Regions from separate parts of the Homo sapiens genome. Here region 2 is linked to region 1. A link means that fine-mapping ties the variant in region 1 to the expression of a gene that starts in the linked region. Tissue or cell type: caudate. Region 1 holds a variant in brackets; the other region holds the start of a gene. All regions are shown on one strand. Distances are from middle to middle.

The links. PIP is the estimated chance that this variant, and not a neighbour inherited with it, causes the effect.
Region 2: it holds the start of KCNJ9, and the variant in region 1 is fine-mapped to the expression of KCNJ9 in caudate (GTEx, PIP 0.93).

Annotation. Positions count from the first base shown.
Region 1 is chr1:160,482,118-160,490,223 of GRCh38, forward strand. It overlaps SLAMF6 (SLAM family member 6), which reads right to left. Exons shown (of 8, transcript NM_001184714.2): 5 at 8,081-8,106; 6 at 6,971-7,053; 7 at 4,987-5,058; 8 at 2,919-4,637. The coding sequence ends at 4,590. Among named protein-coding and RNA genes, the nearest start is that of SLAMF6, 37 kb to the right of the region's middle. RefSeq lists enhancers at 7,223-7,352, 7,463-7,522. The variant G/A (reference allele first, on the strand shown) is at 3,188.
Region 2 is chr1:160,078,171-160,086,276 of GRCh38, forward strand. KCNJ9 (potassium inwardly rectifying channel subfamily J member 9) reads left to right here and starts at 3,368. Exons shown (of 3, transcript NM_004983.3): 1 at 3,368-3,527; 2 at 5,747-6,710. The coding sequence starts at 5,861. RefSeq lists an enhancer at 6,428-6,958.

The sequences.
Region 1 (8,106 bases):
AGTGACCTTGGACAGGGTAGCCTTCTCTCTGTTCTGCATCTAGCTGTGGCCCTGCTTCCTCATATCAAAGTATACACTGAACCCTGAGGGAGGCTAAATGATGAAAGCTTCAAGTAAGTGTCCTAAAGCTACACGGGGTTCAGGTGTTGGCTTGAGGGTGGGATGGGGTGTGGACAAGTGAGATCAGACATTGTTATTTTGGGACTAGTTAATGTGCTCTTTTGACCAACATGATGTGGGGCAAAGCTTCATGGTGTAGGTAAGAGGTTGGAAACTTAACTATTTTCAGTACTAGGTAGGTATCTTAAGTGAGTGAAGCAGGCAGGGCAGGCCAGGAGTGAAATGTGAAGTGCAAGCCCCATTTAGAATAGAACAGAGGCTACTCAGCACCAGCTAATTGTTGCCTCATAGGGATGTGGTCCCAGTATCCATAAGGCACAGAAGTAGGAAGGAGAGTCTAGATTATTCTAGGAGCTGAATAAAGAACAGTGTGGCTGGAATGCTGTGAAAGAAGGAGTAGAGATGTGAGTAGGGGTCTTGTAGGCCTTGTCAACACTTTGTGACCTCCTAGTGGGAATGACTGGGGGCTGGCAGAGTGGGAAGAGTATTTCTATTCCCTTTTATTACCTTTCCAGGATAGCCAATCACAGCCATCTTACCTTATTCAAAGTAGTTTAATGGGGCTACCATTTCCTTAATTCTACAATAAAAATATTAAAGAACAAGCTTACCTCCTGGGCAAAGAAAGTTTGTTTTTTGGTAGGAATTTTATAAGCATTGCATGTTTTCTTCCCTGCTTGCAAAATGCATGATTCATCTTTTAGGAATGGGGCATCTGGGTCTTAATGTATTTAACTTTAGAACAATAGATTAGGTTTTTGTTGATTAAATCCATTTGTTTCCCACAAGAAAACAAAAATGATTAGTTATATGGTGAGTACTGGGTAGTTTTCAGTTTTGTAAAGGAGATCTGTTCAAGAGTGTCCCATAACAATGATACCATTTACTGATATGAAAAAGCATAGTAGAAGAAAAGGCTTGATAAGAGAAATCAAGAGGTTTGATTTTTTTTTTTTGACAGAGTCTCACTCTGTTGCCCAGGCTGGAGTGCAGTGGCATGATCTTGGCTCACTGCAACCTCCGCCTCCTGGTTTCAAGTGATTCTCCTGCCTCAGCCTCCTGAGTACCTGGGATTACAGGCACCCAACATCACACCCGGCTAATTTTTGTATTTTTAGTAGAGACCGGGTTTCACCATGTTGGCCAGACTGGTCTCGAACTCCTGACTTCAAGTGAGCCACCTGCCTCGGCCTCCCAAAGTGCTGGGATTACAGGCATGAGCCACCACATCTGCCCAAGAGTTTTTATTTTTTAAAAAACTTTGATATATCTACCAGATATGCAAATGGTGATGCCAAGTAGGCAGTTAATGAGGTAAGCCAGGAGGTCAGGACTAAAGATGTGTTTGGGAACCATTAGCTTATAAAGGCTATTAAGGCAATAGGAATGGCTGACATCAGATAAGAAGAGTACTTAGATGGAGAAGTGAATGGGACCCACATGTGAGCCTTAGCTTCAGTCTTTACTGGTCCTGTGGAGGAGGCAGTGGATCTGCAAAGAGCCTGAGAAGCAGCTAGGAAGGAAGGAGTAAAACTCGGGGAATGTAGTGTCACAGAAGCCAAGAGAAGAGAGTGTGGTATTTATGATAAAAAGGGAGAAGGTTGAAGAGATTGAAAGAAATATAACATCAGGAATTCTATGTTTTAGTAGCTGGTCTATAAAGACAAGTGAGCTTAGCTTTCTTATGAGTTCTTTTCTTACTCACCTCTTAGATGTCTATAGATACGCCCTTAGTTTTTGTTTTGTTTGTGATCCTCCCCAGTGCAGTCCAGATTCAGGGTAGATTCTGGTAGATTTCTGACTAGATGGATTAGTTGTGCCTTCCATGACATATCCCCTAATTTTCTTGCTGGTTTTGGGCACCCTAGATGTTGCAAATATTTTTCTATCTGCACTGACTTTACAGATTATTCCTTTTCCCTCTCTGAAGAACCTTGGAATTCTTCAAAGTTTCCACACACACAAAAAAAGCTTTATATATATATATATATATATATATATATATATTTTTTTTTTTTTTTTTTTTTTTTTTTTTTTGGGTCCCCTTGAAAGGAAAGCACTCTCTTACCTGCCCAGTGAGATTTCCTGAGCTTCAGGTCATGTTGCACGAACATGGCAGTAACCCTCTTTTTACTCTTTTCTTTGAAGTCTCCATGAACCCAGAACCTATTCCTTGGAAACTCTTCCTTCTTCTTGATTAAGCTTCCCTATCTTGTCCTACTCCACTGACTAATACTGTAATTGATGGCTGGTATTTGAGATTAATTAACTTTGATGAGCTTTGTTTTTTTCTATTCTTTTCAGCCATTATTTCAGTTTTTCCCCATTCCAACTCTCCAACCCCTTCCCTTTGAATCCTGTGGTCTTGAGAGCTGATCTCTGTCACGTCTTGTTGTGCTGAAGGTTTGTGAGATGATTCTGTGTAATTCAGTAATAATTAATTTTTACTATTATTAATTTATACTAATTGTATCAGTAATTATACCAACAATGCTGACTGACATTTATTGAGCTCCTTTATGTGGCTGAGAGCTATGCTAAGGACTCCAGGTGTATTGTCTTATTTCATTTTCACAAAACCCCATTACATATTCATTTATTTATTAAAAAATTTTTTTGAACACTTGCTATATGCTAGATACTGTGTTAGGTGCTAGGGTTACGGTGATAAACAAAACAGTTATTGTCTCTGTTTCTGAAGAGCTTAGGGTATAGTGGGAGAAATAGATGTTAAAAAAGTAAAAATAAATATTTAATGATATGATAAATGACATAGAAGGTGTAACAGAATAATAAGATCTATTTCATTTTATTTTATTTATTTATTTTTTGAGACAGAGTCTCACTCTGTCACCCAGACTGGAATACATTGGCATGATTTTGGCTCACTGGAACCTCCACCTCCTGGGTTCAAGCGATTCTCCTGCCTCAGTCTCTCAAGTAGCTGGGATTTTAGGGGTGCACCACCACGCCTGGCTAATTTTTTTGTATTTTTAGTAAAGACGGGGTTTCACCAAGTTGGCCAGGCTGGTCTTGAACTCCTGACCTCAAGTGATCTCCCCCCTTG[G/A]CCTCCCAAAGTACAGGGATTACAGGTGTGAGCCACCATGCCCAGCCTAGAAGATTCATTTTAGAAAGAGTGGTCTGGGAAGGTTTCTCTTAGGAGGTGACATATTTAAAATTAAACCTAAAGAATAGGAGGACCCCAGCAGGCAGAGGAAGGGCCTGCAGGAAGATGTAAATAATTAACATAAAGAACTTTTCCTTTAATAGAGGAGCTGAAAGAAGATCAGGGAGGCTACATAGAGAGTGTCAGAAGGGTAATGCTAGCTGAGGCTGGAGGTGGGCCAGACCATCCAGGGCCATGGAAACTGGATTTCTTTCTGAGTGCATTGGGAAACCTGCAGGGTTTTAAGCAGGAAACTGAAGGATCCAATTTATATTAAAAACATTACTCTGGCCATCTTGTGGAGAGTGGGTTGGAGAGGGACAAGAACAAAAGTGAGGACAACTGTTCTGATCTTAAGGTAGGATTCAGGTTAGAGGTGGTGATGGTTGGATACAGGATGGTGGTCAAGGAGTTGGAGGAGAAGTGGAAGGTCCAAGAAATATTTCTGAGGTAGAGTCCAAAGGGCCTGGTGACAAAGACACTGGAGTCAGGGATGACTTAGATTCTTGGCTCAAACAATGGAGCTGATGTAATACCATCCTCTTCCTTTTTCAGTCTGGGAGACTAAGGCTCCAAAAGGTTAGGCAGTATGTCCCAGGAGATGTGTCTAATAAACATTGTACAAGTTGAGCATCCCAAATCCAAAAATCCAATATCCAAAATGCTCCAAAATCTGAGATTTTGAGCACTGCATCGACATCAATGAAACTCAAGGGAAATGCTTATTGGAGCATTTTGAATTTTGGATTTTTGGATTTGGATACTCAACCGCTAAATATAATGCAAATATTCCAAAATCTGAAAAAAAATTGAAATCTGAAACATTTCTAATCCCAAGCATTTCAGACAAGGGATGCTCAACTTGTATCAGGATGGGCCCATCCAACTCCAGAGACTACACATGTAACCAACACACTGCATTATTTCTCAATAAGTCAATCCTGCTGCTTTCTAAAAGGAGAGAAGTGGTTGTCTTCTGGATCATAAACTCTCTGTCAACCATAATTCCATTTGCTTAGTTATCAAAGAGAGAGTCAATGTGCTGGTGTGTTATCTTTAGCATGTTTTGGCCTGAAGTGGATTGGAAAATATTATTTGAACCACATGCTGGAAATGATGTTATCCTTAGGTGTTTGACTCAGGTAGGCAGGTTTAAGTCCGAAGGACTGGAGGTGATCATCCTATCCTAGATATTCAAATTCTGTTGCCAGGAACAACAGGAACCAAGCTTCCTGTTCTTTGTTCTGTCTCATGGGATCAGAAGACGTGTCATTCCCGAATTCCTCTGAGGCCTTTCAGCAACTTACACGACATTGTCAAGGGCAGTTGCCCTGGAAAAAGTGGGTTTACTCTGTGGGAAAAAGAGGAAGATGAGGTAGGTTAATTGGAACTGGAACCTCAGCCCACCCCTCATAACTACAGAGAGAGGACTGGAGACTACAGAGAGGCAGATAATAGAGATATTGATAGCATAGGGCAGGATTAAATTTAAAAACATGTAATTGAAAACTCAGTTATGCATGGTGATCCTAATACAAAATAACTTCTTGATTATGTTTTGGTGATGTCCTGAGACTTTCCGCATGCTGCTGCTGTTTGTGCATCTGTAAAATGACCCTTTTATTTTTACTTTATTTGAAAAATCATAGGTCTGTGGAGAGAGGTAAGAATATAAAAACATGGAGCAATCGTGGGCTTACCTCTTTGGAATGATTAATTGTGGAGTAAATTGTGATAGTATCATTTTCTCTAGGTGTCCAGATTTCTGTTTCCTGTAAAAAGAATCATACCAATTTGGCTTACACAGAGACAAAGAGATTAATGCATAGATATATTCTTAGGAAAGACTGTGTGACAAAAAAGAGAATATGTCAAAGTTCTTCCAGAGGAAGGCTGGGGAATGTTCAGTGGAAGACCAAGCACGACTAGCTATCAAACTTGTGAGGATTTAGTGGCATTTCCTGAGCCCCAAACAGAACAGCAACACTGCAGCAAACCAATGGGCTCAAGAGCCAGAGAAAGGCAGCCTTGCTGTATGAAGGGAAGGAAGTATTCTTGTCCTTTGTCCAGCTCTACTTTCCTTCCTCCATTTTTAAGAAAAAACTTATATACCAGATAGTTTATTATATGTTTTGTCTCAAATTTTTACTAGCTATGACTGAAACTACCCATTTTGCCTGCTCCATCTTTTGCTATAATTCTAACTGCCTTGTCATCATGTCATTGGGGTCTTCTCAAGCATGGGGAATTGGTAGAATAGGAACACTTGGCCTTAAGAATGGCTCTGCCTGGAATGCACATTACAGAAATAATAGCAGAAGTCCCTACGGCCCTCAAAGAACCTACTCAAAGATTTTGACACTTTAAATTAATGAAGAAGTATTTAGAGAATTATCAAGATCTCTACTGGGCACAGTGGCTCATGCCTGTAAACCCAACACTTTGGGAGGACGAGGCAGGCGGATCACTTGAGCGCAGAAGTTTGAGACCAGCCTGGGCAACATGGTGAAACCCCGTCTCTACAAAAAGTAGAAAAATTATCCTGATGTGATGGTGCTCGCCTGTAGTCGCAGCTACTTGGGAGGCCAAGGTAAAAGGATCACCTGAGCATGAGGAGGTTGAGGCTGCAGTGAGCTGTGATTGTGCTACTGCACTCAGCCCTTGGTGACAGAGTGACACTCTGTCTCAAAAAAAAAAAAAAACCAAAAAACAAAAAACAAACCAACAAAAAACAAAAAAACCTCAAACTCTCCAAAGCACATTTTTTTTTTCTTTTTGCTAAAGAGAAAGCTAACCAATTTGTGGGAAATTAGTTTTTTGATTTGTCAGAGTGTGAGTTGACTTGTTTTCAGGAGGAATTTGCAAAGGCAAAAGAAATGTCTGAGCAAGTGAGAGTACCCCTTCTTGCTTCCTGTCATCAAGGATCATACTTTGCAAATATAGGTGAAGGGAATCCAAGATTTCTAGCTAGATCATTGCTTACATCATTTTGAAAATGCTAAGCTTTCCTGGCTTATTTTTCAGAAAACTGGCCTCTCAAAATGTATGGTATTATTTAGAGATGTGCCACCTGCAGGTCCTTTATTTAGGGGTGGTGGGGAGTTGCTGATACATGACAGATGAGTTGCTGATGCTTGACCAGCCATCCTGTTATGCTGCTAGATGAGAGGGGAGGGGTGAACCATTGCTCATGGTTTAGTGGCCTCTACTGTGCCCCCTTCCCCTCTTGAGAGACTACTTCTGAACTCCCCTAAGACCCCTACATGCAGAGTGAGAAGTCAGCCACCTGCTATGGAACTACGTCCATAGGAAACTTTCAAACTTAGTGGAACTCTGACCCATTCAGCAAGTATTTACTGATCATTATGCTAGGATATAGGGCAAGAGAGAGGAAGACATAATTTGTACTTTCAGTCAGCTTGTAATTAAGCTGAAGGGACAAGACTTACTGATGCATCAAGCGGTTGGAGAACTGTGTAAGGCAGGGTATGAATAAACATTCCCTTAAGGGTGAGAAAGGCAGACACCAGAGTGGTCTAGCGCATAACTTTGCAGCCCCTGTCGCTGTGGCTGTCTTCTCCTCCCCTCAGTGGTCATTTGTTCAGTCAGATGGTTATGGTGACAAGTTTGTGAACAATGGCTGTAAAACTGACAACAATGGCATATAAAGCTGAAAAGACTCACCCTGTTTGAATGAGTGACTGAAGCATACACAGTGTTGTTCGTTGGAGACACTGAAACATACTCTAGGTTCCTTGCGGACTCTGCTGTTAACATAGGAAGGCACAGTCAATGGCACAAGGACTCTGGGACTTCTCTCCCAGGACTTCTCCCTCCCCAGAGCACACTGTGTCCCCAGATAGGCAGGTGTTTGAAGCATCTCCTTTCCTGAGGGATCATTCGTTCTTGACAGTCTTTGGAGCTCTGGGTGAACCTTCTCAGTCATGTGGTCTATTTCTGACCACATCTCTTGGGGTAGAAGGTGGTGTTGAGGTCCCCTAAAGCTTCAGAGTCTCCCTCAGGCTTCACATGTGGGTCAGGAAGCTCCTGGGACCAAATAGCCCTGCCTATGGAAGGGCTAAAGACACCTCATTGGCAAACATAATGGAGCCAGTTATTTCACATTTGGGATATTATTAAGCTTTTCAGAGGTCTCTACAGCGGATTTGATTATTTTGGAGATGAGGAACTGGAGGCTCAGAAAACTTAACTGACTTGTGCAAAGCCATACAGACAGTGATGAAACAGCAACTCAAATGCACGTCTTCTGACTTCAAACCTTATGCCTTTTCCTCTGCAAGTGATGTCATGCATCACTCATGCATGAAATGAGACCCAAAGCCAATCTGAGTCCAGAGCCTGTGTTTGTGTTTCTATATCATGTTTTCTCTTTCCACTGTGTCTATCCATTGCCCAGACCCTGGCTGAACAGTAATGATGCAGTCAGACAGTTTGGTTTTGTGCCTTGGATGCTCTAATCCTGCCTGTGCCCTGGACTTGCTGGGTGACAAGGGATGATCCCTTTCACTGGGACTTAGTTTCTCCATCAGCAGGGTGGTGAATGAACCTGATATCACCAAGAGAAACTGTGTGAGTGACTGGTTCACATGCCTATGCCTGTGAACCATGTAGGACCCATGATTACAGATCATCTCCCCTCACAGCATGTGGTCTGAGTAATGACATTCTGACTCCTTCCTCTGTCATTATCCAGCCCTCTGCCATCCCCCTCTCTCTTCCATTTGGCTCTTCCCATCTGCTTTATGATGGAGAGTTAAGAGTCTGAATGCTCACCGGGGCCCTGTGTTCGCTGAGTAGAC
Region 2 (8,106 bases), 400 kb before region 1:
CAAGCGATCCGTGTACCTCAGCCTCCCAAAGTGCTGGGATTATAGGTTCGAGCCACCGTGCCAAGCCAAAAGCTAGAATCTTGTCTATGCTTTTGTGTCCTGGTGCCTGGGAAAACTTTTTTTCTCCTGCCTCAGTTCAGCTCAGTGATAAATAAGGAACTGAGGTTAGATAACAGGTAAAGTCTAGGACCTGCAGGATGAGTGAATCAGGTGAGGGAGTGGTAGTCTTCTTCCTTGTCAGCCAGGCTAGGTTCAGGGGCACCTGGACTGAGGCGAGGGGCTGGCTGAAATTGCCTTGTGGAGGGCCCTGCCAGTGATGCCCCCTCCAGCAAATAGGGCCAGCTCTATGCAAATGTGTTCTTGCCCAGGAGTTTGGTTTCTTCTCTCTGAGCTCCTGGCACAGTGGAACCAATGTGAGCAGCTGCTTGGCAGGACAGAGAAGGGCAGGCTAGCAGTCCCAAAGCTCGGGTGACAGGACCAGGCCCAGGAGACGGGGATGTTGACTGGGGCTTTAACAGCACTCTTGATGCCAATCTCGGGCTGAAAACTCGATATTTCCACTTGGAACAACAAGAATCACCAGCAAGAGAGCTGAGGAGAGGGCAGTATACCGGGGGCGCCCCCTGCAGGCCTCACAGGGTGGTGCCAGAACAGAGGAAGGTGGCACAGGCAGGGTGGGGCTTTCAGGACATCCCTGAGATGATGGTGATGACAGTGACAATGATGATGACCATGAAGAAGACAATGAGGAGGAGGAAGAGGAAGACAGTAGCTAGCATTTACTGAGTACTAACAATGTGTCAGGCATTGCCTTATGTAGTCTTCATGACAACCCTCTAAGAGATGAATAATATGGTTTTCTTTTTTTTAGATGAAGAATCTGAGGTTTAACGGGTTAAATAATTGCTCAGGTTCACCCAGCTAGTAGTGGACAGAGGTGGGATTTGAACCCAAGTCATTGCCTCCTGAGCTTATATTATCCAGTACCGAATTTCCCACCTTGCCAGGTCATTCCAGGAGCTTCTAGCCCTCCGTGTCCATCTCTATGTCTTCCTGCTCCTCTAGCTCATATTTTCTTGATCCAAATTTAAAGGATCTGGATAAGAATAGATCCATATCTGGGATATAATAATACTGATAACAACAGCAACAACACTTTGCGTTTGTAAACCACTTTCTTCTCTTCATTATTTCCCTGGGGAAAAATAAACAATAAGATATTTCTGTTTCTCCAAATTTTGTTCTGATTTTTATCAGTGTTCCTGAAGCTATTTCAATATAGTCATGATCAATTTCTAAGAATATTTTTAGGTTCTGCTTTTTTATGTAACAGTGTGTTATATACACATTCACATATTTAAACACAGCAATTATTATGGCTTTACAGTAACCCATGATATTAATATTCCACAGATATTACATTACTGAGGCACACTAGGCTAAGGCTGACAACACCAAATGCTGGCAGGAATGTGGAGCAACAGGAACAGGAATTCGTGGCTGATGGGAATGCAAAATGGTACAGCTACTTTGGAAGAAAGTGTGGCAGTTTCCTAAAAAACTAAACATACTCTTACCATACGATCCAGGAATCATGCTCCTTGGTATCTACCCAAAGGAGATGAAAACTTACGTCCACATGAAAATCTGCCGATGGATGTTTATAGCAGCTGTATTCATCATGGCCAAATCTTGAAAGCAACCGAGATGTCCTTCAGTAGGTAAATAGATAAATAAACCATGGCCATCCTGAAATGGAATATTATTCAGTGCCAAAAAGAAATGAACTACAAAGCCATGAAAAGACATGGAGGAACCTTAAATTTACATTACTAAGTGAAAGAAGCCAATTTGAAATGGCTACATATTGTACAATTCCAACGACATGACATTCTGGAAAAGGAAAATTATGGAAACAGGAAAAAGAGCAGTTGTTGCCAGGGGTTAGGGAAGGGGGATTGACTAGGCAGAGCATAGAGGACTTTTACAGCAATGAGACTATAATGGTGGATACACATCATTATATATTTGTCCAAACCCACAGAGTGTACAACACCAAAAGTGAACCCTAATGTCAGCTATGGACTTTGGGCGATTATGATGTCAATGTAGCTTCATCACTTGTAACAAATGTGCCATTCTGGTGGATGTGTGGGGACAGGGGGCATACGGAAAATCTCTATAACTTTCCTCTCAGTTTTGCTCTGAATCTAAAACTACCCTTTAAGAAGTCTTCTTTTAAAACAATTTACAAAGCATGAGGTGATACAGATGTGGGAGTTTGGCTCCTGTCTCTGCCCAACTCTGTGACATTCGATAAATTACTTAACATGTCTCTGTTTCAGTTTCCTCATCTATAACTGGGAAAAATAACACCTGTCTTATAGAGTTGCCATGGGGATGACATGAGGCATGTGTCTCGTTCATATCCCATGCTCAGTGAATTAGTAGCAGCAGCCACTGTGTGTTTGTGTGTCTTTATCCCTCCTGGGTTAATGAGCTCCTTGTGGGCAGGGACTCACCCATTCTGTAACCACCCCATCTAACACACTGCCTGGCACTTGGGCTCCGCAGAAGTTTGCCGAGTGAATACTTAGTAAGCCCTAACCTAGGCTTTTCTCTCTGGTGGACATTTGGGTTGTTTCTAGGGTTTTTGCTATGAATAAAACACATTTCAAAGCCCTTTGTGGTTTTTTTGGTTTTTGTTTGTTTGTTTTTTCTTCGTTTGATCTGCTGACTCTGTGAAGCAGGCAGAAAGGGGATATTTGCTCTTGTCCACACCCTGGTACAGATGGAATAACTGTGGCTCAGGGAAGTGAAGTGACTCCTATGGGACACAGTGCAAATCAGTGGCAATAATTAGAACCCCTGACCCTGCCTCCCTTCCTTTAGTAGATCTATTTTCCTTCTAGCTACCGCCTTCTGGATCCATGGCCTCTCCAAAACTAGACCATGATGGTCAGCCTGACCTGAGAGCAGCACCTGCACGCAGAGACCCATGTTGAAGGTGGTGAGCTGCCAGCTACCAGATGGCCCTCTGAAACCCCAGGGAACCTAGCACCTTATTCTCAAATACATGAGGGCTTGTATTTTCCCCCAGGAAGGAGCTTCTTAGGAAAGAGCCAGCGTGCCAGCTTTGTTTTTCTTTCTTCTTCTTTTTTTTTTTTTCCTATGAGGGGGTGAGGAGCCAAGCTCTGAGTTGTCCAGGAGGAGGGACTTTGGCTAAAAATAGCTATGGCGTGTGGTTTGGATCAACCCCTAGTGGTACCCAGGACTGGGGAGGGGAGGGGGATGCTCTGGAGCTGTCGCCAGACTGGTTGCCGTGGAAACAAGAGAGGAGCAGGGGAGCCTGGGAAGTAGGGATGACACAGATAGCAAGTCCTAGTCAGAGCTGCCGCTACATTTAGGAGAAACAGCGGTGTCTGCGGCTCCCACCCTTCGGGGGGCCCGTGGGGGGGGCGGTGTCAGGGGCATGGACGCCACCCCCCAGGGGTCTCTGCTGCCGGCTACTCTCCTCTCCACGTGCTGTGAGTTGAGTTGCGGGGGACTTGGGGTTTGGGCCCCTATTTCCAAGGCAAGTGGGGGTTTGGGAGGAGCTGGTTCTTGGGGGAGTTTTCACCAGGTCTCTCCTTCCAAAAAATGAGCCCCCTTACTCCCCAGCTCTCTAGAGGGAGGAAGAGGGGCCCAGGAAAAGTGGTATTGCAATCTTCTGCAAAGGGGTCATAGCATGCACAAGAAATGAGGAGTAGGTTGGAGGAACTGAAATTCTTGGAGGGAAGATGGAGAAATCAAGTCCTTGATCTTGAGATAGAGGTAACAATTTCACACTTTTCCTTCCCCTGAGAAAAGTGCAGTCCCCCACTCAGGAAGACAGGATGTGGGACACATTCAAAATAAGGTTTACCTAGATCCCTGGGGCAATGGAGAGTGAGAGAGTTCTGGGGGTGATCCGACATCGGGGTTCCTTCCCCATCCCTGGGCAGAGAGATCTGTCTAGGCAAGCCGACTGGGGGTCAGATTACCTAAGACCCTGAGAGAACATCTGGAAGCCCACCTGGGACTAAAGCTAGGATAATGGGAGCAGGGTCGTTTTCTGCATGACCTGGGGTCTCTGAGCCAGTCAATGCTTACTCTTCCTGAGGACATCTGAGCTTCAGGGAAGGAAAAGGAAGCCCATTGTTGGGGGCAGGGGAAACCCTAATCTTCCATTGCCATGGGGCTCTTGGACCCTGTGTCCCCTGACTCCATGGACAATAAATGCAGGGGGTGCCCCTAAGCTCAAAGCCATTTCATTTTGATTTCTCTTCCTACCTTCTCTACCCCAAGACACACAAACACACACACACACACCCTCTCCAGAGTGCTGACTGCAGAGGACCTCACCCCAGAACATAAGATGCTGGAGTGCTAGGTTTAGAGTCACATACCCAGGCAGTTTCTCCCCAGGACCTGGTCAACCATCCAGGCCATCTGTGGTTCCTATGGCACACTCCTCCATCCCCCACCCACTAGCCAGCCCACGTTTCCGTGGAGTGGGAGGAGAGGATCATTCCCAGGAAAGAGAAGGGAAGGTGGAAGAGTCCCAAATCCTATTCTAAACCTTTCCCTGTATGGTCCATATCTCCTAGAGGACCCTGGGTGCTTTGGGGAAGGGCTCTGGACCTCTCTCAGAGCAGATTGCAGCTCAGAGAGCTCCTCAGAGGCAAGCATGTGAAGAAAAATCAGGTGGGCTTCGCTTGGAATGTGGGCTTTGGGGCATATGGCAGGTGGGGGCGGGGCTGGTGTTAGGATAGTCCATGGGAAGTAAGAGGCTGGGGGAAAATATAACTAGAGGGAGTGGGGAAATAAATGTGGGTGCTTAGTGCTTCACCTGATCTGATTCCATGTCTCTCATGAAGAATAGGATCCCAGAGGGATACGAGCCTAACTCTTTATAACTCTGGGCTTCCTTTCCCAGGCTTCTGTGTTGGGATCTTCCAGTTCCCCTCCCCATTTGCAGGCTGTCTCCACTAGGAGAAAAAACCCAAGGGAAATGAGGCTGGCCCAAGAGCAGCAGTGATCGTGGGTAGGTCTCAGGGAGGATTTCTAGTGGGAATTTCCTAATGTTCCACCCTTGTGCACTGGAGGGTTTCCACTGACTTTCCACAGCTTTCATTTCTTTCTCGTTTGTAAGCATGTTGAGGGGAGGGAATGGAGCGGAGTGAGTGAGGTCCAAGGAGGGAAGAATGAGAAAGACTGTGTATCAGTCTTGGGGTGAACTTCAAAACAGCCTGCGAGGAGAGCCATTGGTGGCTGCACTGGCTACAGCTGGGGAAGGGATGGTGGAAGTCCTTAGGGCAGGGAGGGCTCCATTACCCGCCTGCCCCCCTCCCCAAAAAGCCCCCAGTCTATTGATTTCAGGAAATCACTAGGGGGATCTGGGCCTGGGTCTTTGGCCCCGGGGCTGCCCCTGAGGTGCTGCACACCCCAGCTGGAGGTGATGGCACCAAAATATCTGGTACCTCCTTCCCCTGAAAATCATCGTGGAACTTGCACAGTTCTATCCAGTTCAGGTACATCATTCCATTTGACCCTCACAACTTTCTGAGCCTGGGGGGCAGTTAGGGCTGAATGTGTTATTCCCAGAAATAGAGGCCAGGCAACACGAAGGGACTCGCCCAGGGCCCCCCAGGGCTCGGTGCTGGCCCTGATGCCCCGTGCCTCCCCATCTCCCGAGGGGCCACTCATTCGGCAAACCTTTATTAAGCCCCTCCAGGACCCCCGACGCCGCCTAGGCGCCCAGCGACGCGCGGCAGGTGGCAGCAGCTCGGGCCCCCGCCGCACTCCAGGCGCCCGCAGCGCTCGCCCTGACGCGGCCGCCATGGCGCAGGAGAACGCGGCCTTCTCGCCCGGGCAGGAGGAGCCGCCGCGGCGCCGCGGCCGCCAGCGCTACGTGGAGAAGGATGGCCGGTGCAACGTGCAGCAGGGCAACGTGCGCGAGACATACCGCTACCTGACGGACCTGTTCACCACGCTGGTGGACCTGCAGTGGCGCCTCAGCCTGTTGTTCTTCGTCCTGGCCTACGCGCTCACCTGGCTCTTCTTCGGCGCCATCTGGTGGCTGATCGCCTACGGCCGCGGCGACCTGGAGCACCTGGAGGACACCGCGTGGACGCCGTGCGTCAACAACCTCAACGGCTTCGTGGCCGCCTTCCTCTTCTCCATCGAGACCGAGACCACCATCGGCTACGGGCACCGCGTCATCACCGACCAGTGCCCCGAGGGCATCGTGCTGCTGCTGCTGCAGGCCATCCTGGGCTCCATGGTGAACGCCTTCATGGTGGGCTGCATGTTCGTCAAGATCTCGCAGCCCAACAAGCGCGCAGCCACGCTCGTCTTCTCCTCGCACGCCGTGGTGTCGCTGCGCGACGGGCGCCTCTGCCTCATGTTCCGCGTGGGCGACTTGCGCTCCTCACACATAGTGGAGGCCTCCATCCGCGCCAAGCTCATCCGCTCGCGCCAGACGCTGGAGGGCGAGTTCATCCCGCTGCACCAGACCGACCTCAGCGTGGGCTTCGACACGGGAGACGACCGCCTCTTCCTCGTCTCGCCGCTGGTTATCAGCCACGAGATCGACGCCGCCAGCCCCTTCTGGGAGGCGTCGCGCCGTGCCCTCGAGAGGGACGACTTCGAGATCGTCGTTATCCTCGAGGGCATGGTGGAAGCCACGGGTGCGAGCAGGCCTGGGGAGGGGAGCGGGGTTGGCAGAGGGTGGGCGGGACCGAGGAAGGCAGGGGCGAGACTAGGGGCCAGGGGAGCTGGGGAGGATGGATGGAGGGGCTGGTGGAGGATGAGACAGTGAGGTGAGACAGGGGTCGGAGGCGGGAGTGGAACCGAGCAACGCCGCAGAAGGCCAAGAGAAAGCTTGGAGGAATTCTCCGAAATGGCACTGGCGTGGGGCCCTGGGCCCAGAGGAATGTGTCACTTGGAATAGGGACAGTAATAATAGCTAGTGCTCGCCCAGTATTCACCCTGTGTCATGCGCAGTTCCAAAGCACTTTCTACCTCTGAGTCGATTTAATCCTAACAAGAACCCTCTGAAGGTAACTTCTTGTTATTGTGCTCACTTTTTAGAGATGAGATTGCTCCAATGAGAAATTAAGGAAGTTGTCCACTTTCCTAAGCCAATAAGTGGCCATGCCTGGATTGGACACAGGCAATGTGGCTTCAATGTTTAGTGGTCCCGAGTTGGAAGGAGGGGTTAGGTTCAGGGGTTTTCTCACTGCAGTCAGGTTCAGGCCCCTGGAATTTGACGGTGAAGGTTTTCCATTGCCTGAGTTATTTCTAGGCCGGATCTTGAGGGGAGTTTAATACCTAGTCTCACTTGTACCTCGGTTTCCCAATTCATCCATTTCCACTGACAAGGGATATAGATGATGTTACCTTTTCTAGCTCTTTTCCAAAAGGAACTGGCAACTCATCTGTGATGTCAATAAGTCCAACCCAGACCTACACAGTGAAGGCTTTGGGAGCAGGTGAAAAAAGACCAGTGTTACAGGAGTCGCAAAGGAGGTCACTTAGGACTTGAGATCTAGAGGATAGATGAGGATGAGGAAACTGCGGGTGGAGGACCAAAGGCCCACTAGGGGGCGCCGCAGTCCCTCCTCTGACGCCAGAGCTGCTGATGCTCCCTGCCGGCTTCGCTGACAAGCTGGTGCCTTCAGATCCTTTCCCTGGCCCCTTTAGGCTGAGACTCCGCTTCACACCCCAACCCCAGCTCCGCATCACTGTTCCCATTCCTGCTTCACCCCGACTCTTTCCTCTTCCCCCACTCACCCCGTTCCCTTTCCTCTCTCTCCAGCTGTCACTCCTTTTCTGCCAGTATCTCAGGCAGGCCCCTCACCCTCCAGGGAAGTTGCTGCCCGGCCCTCTTTTCTCTTTGTACCCCCAGCCCTGCCCTCTCCTCCTCGAAGCCCTTCTCTCCCCAGTGTCCCTTATGCCTCTTTCTCTTCTCTCCCACTGGATACTTTCTATTCCAACTTCACCGAGGAATACCAATGTCTCAGCGCCAGGCTTTCCGAGTTGACAGCCACTCTCCGGTTAGCTAATGTTCACTCTTCTGTTTCC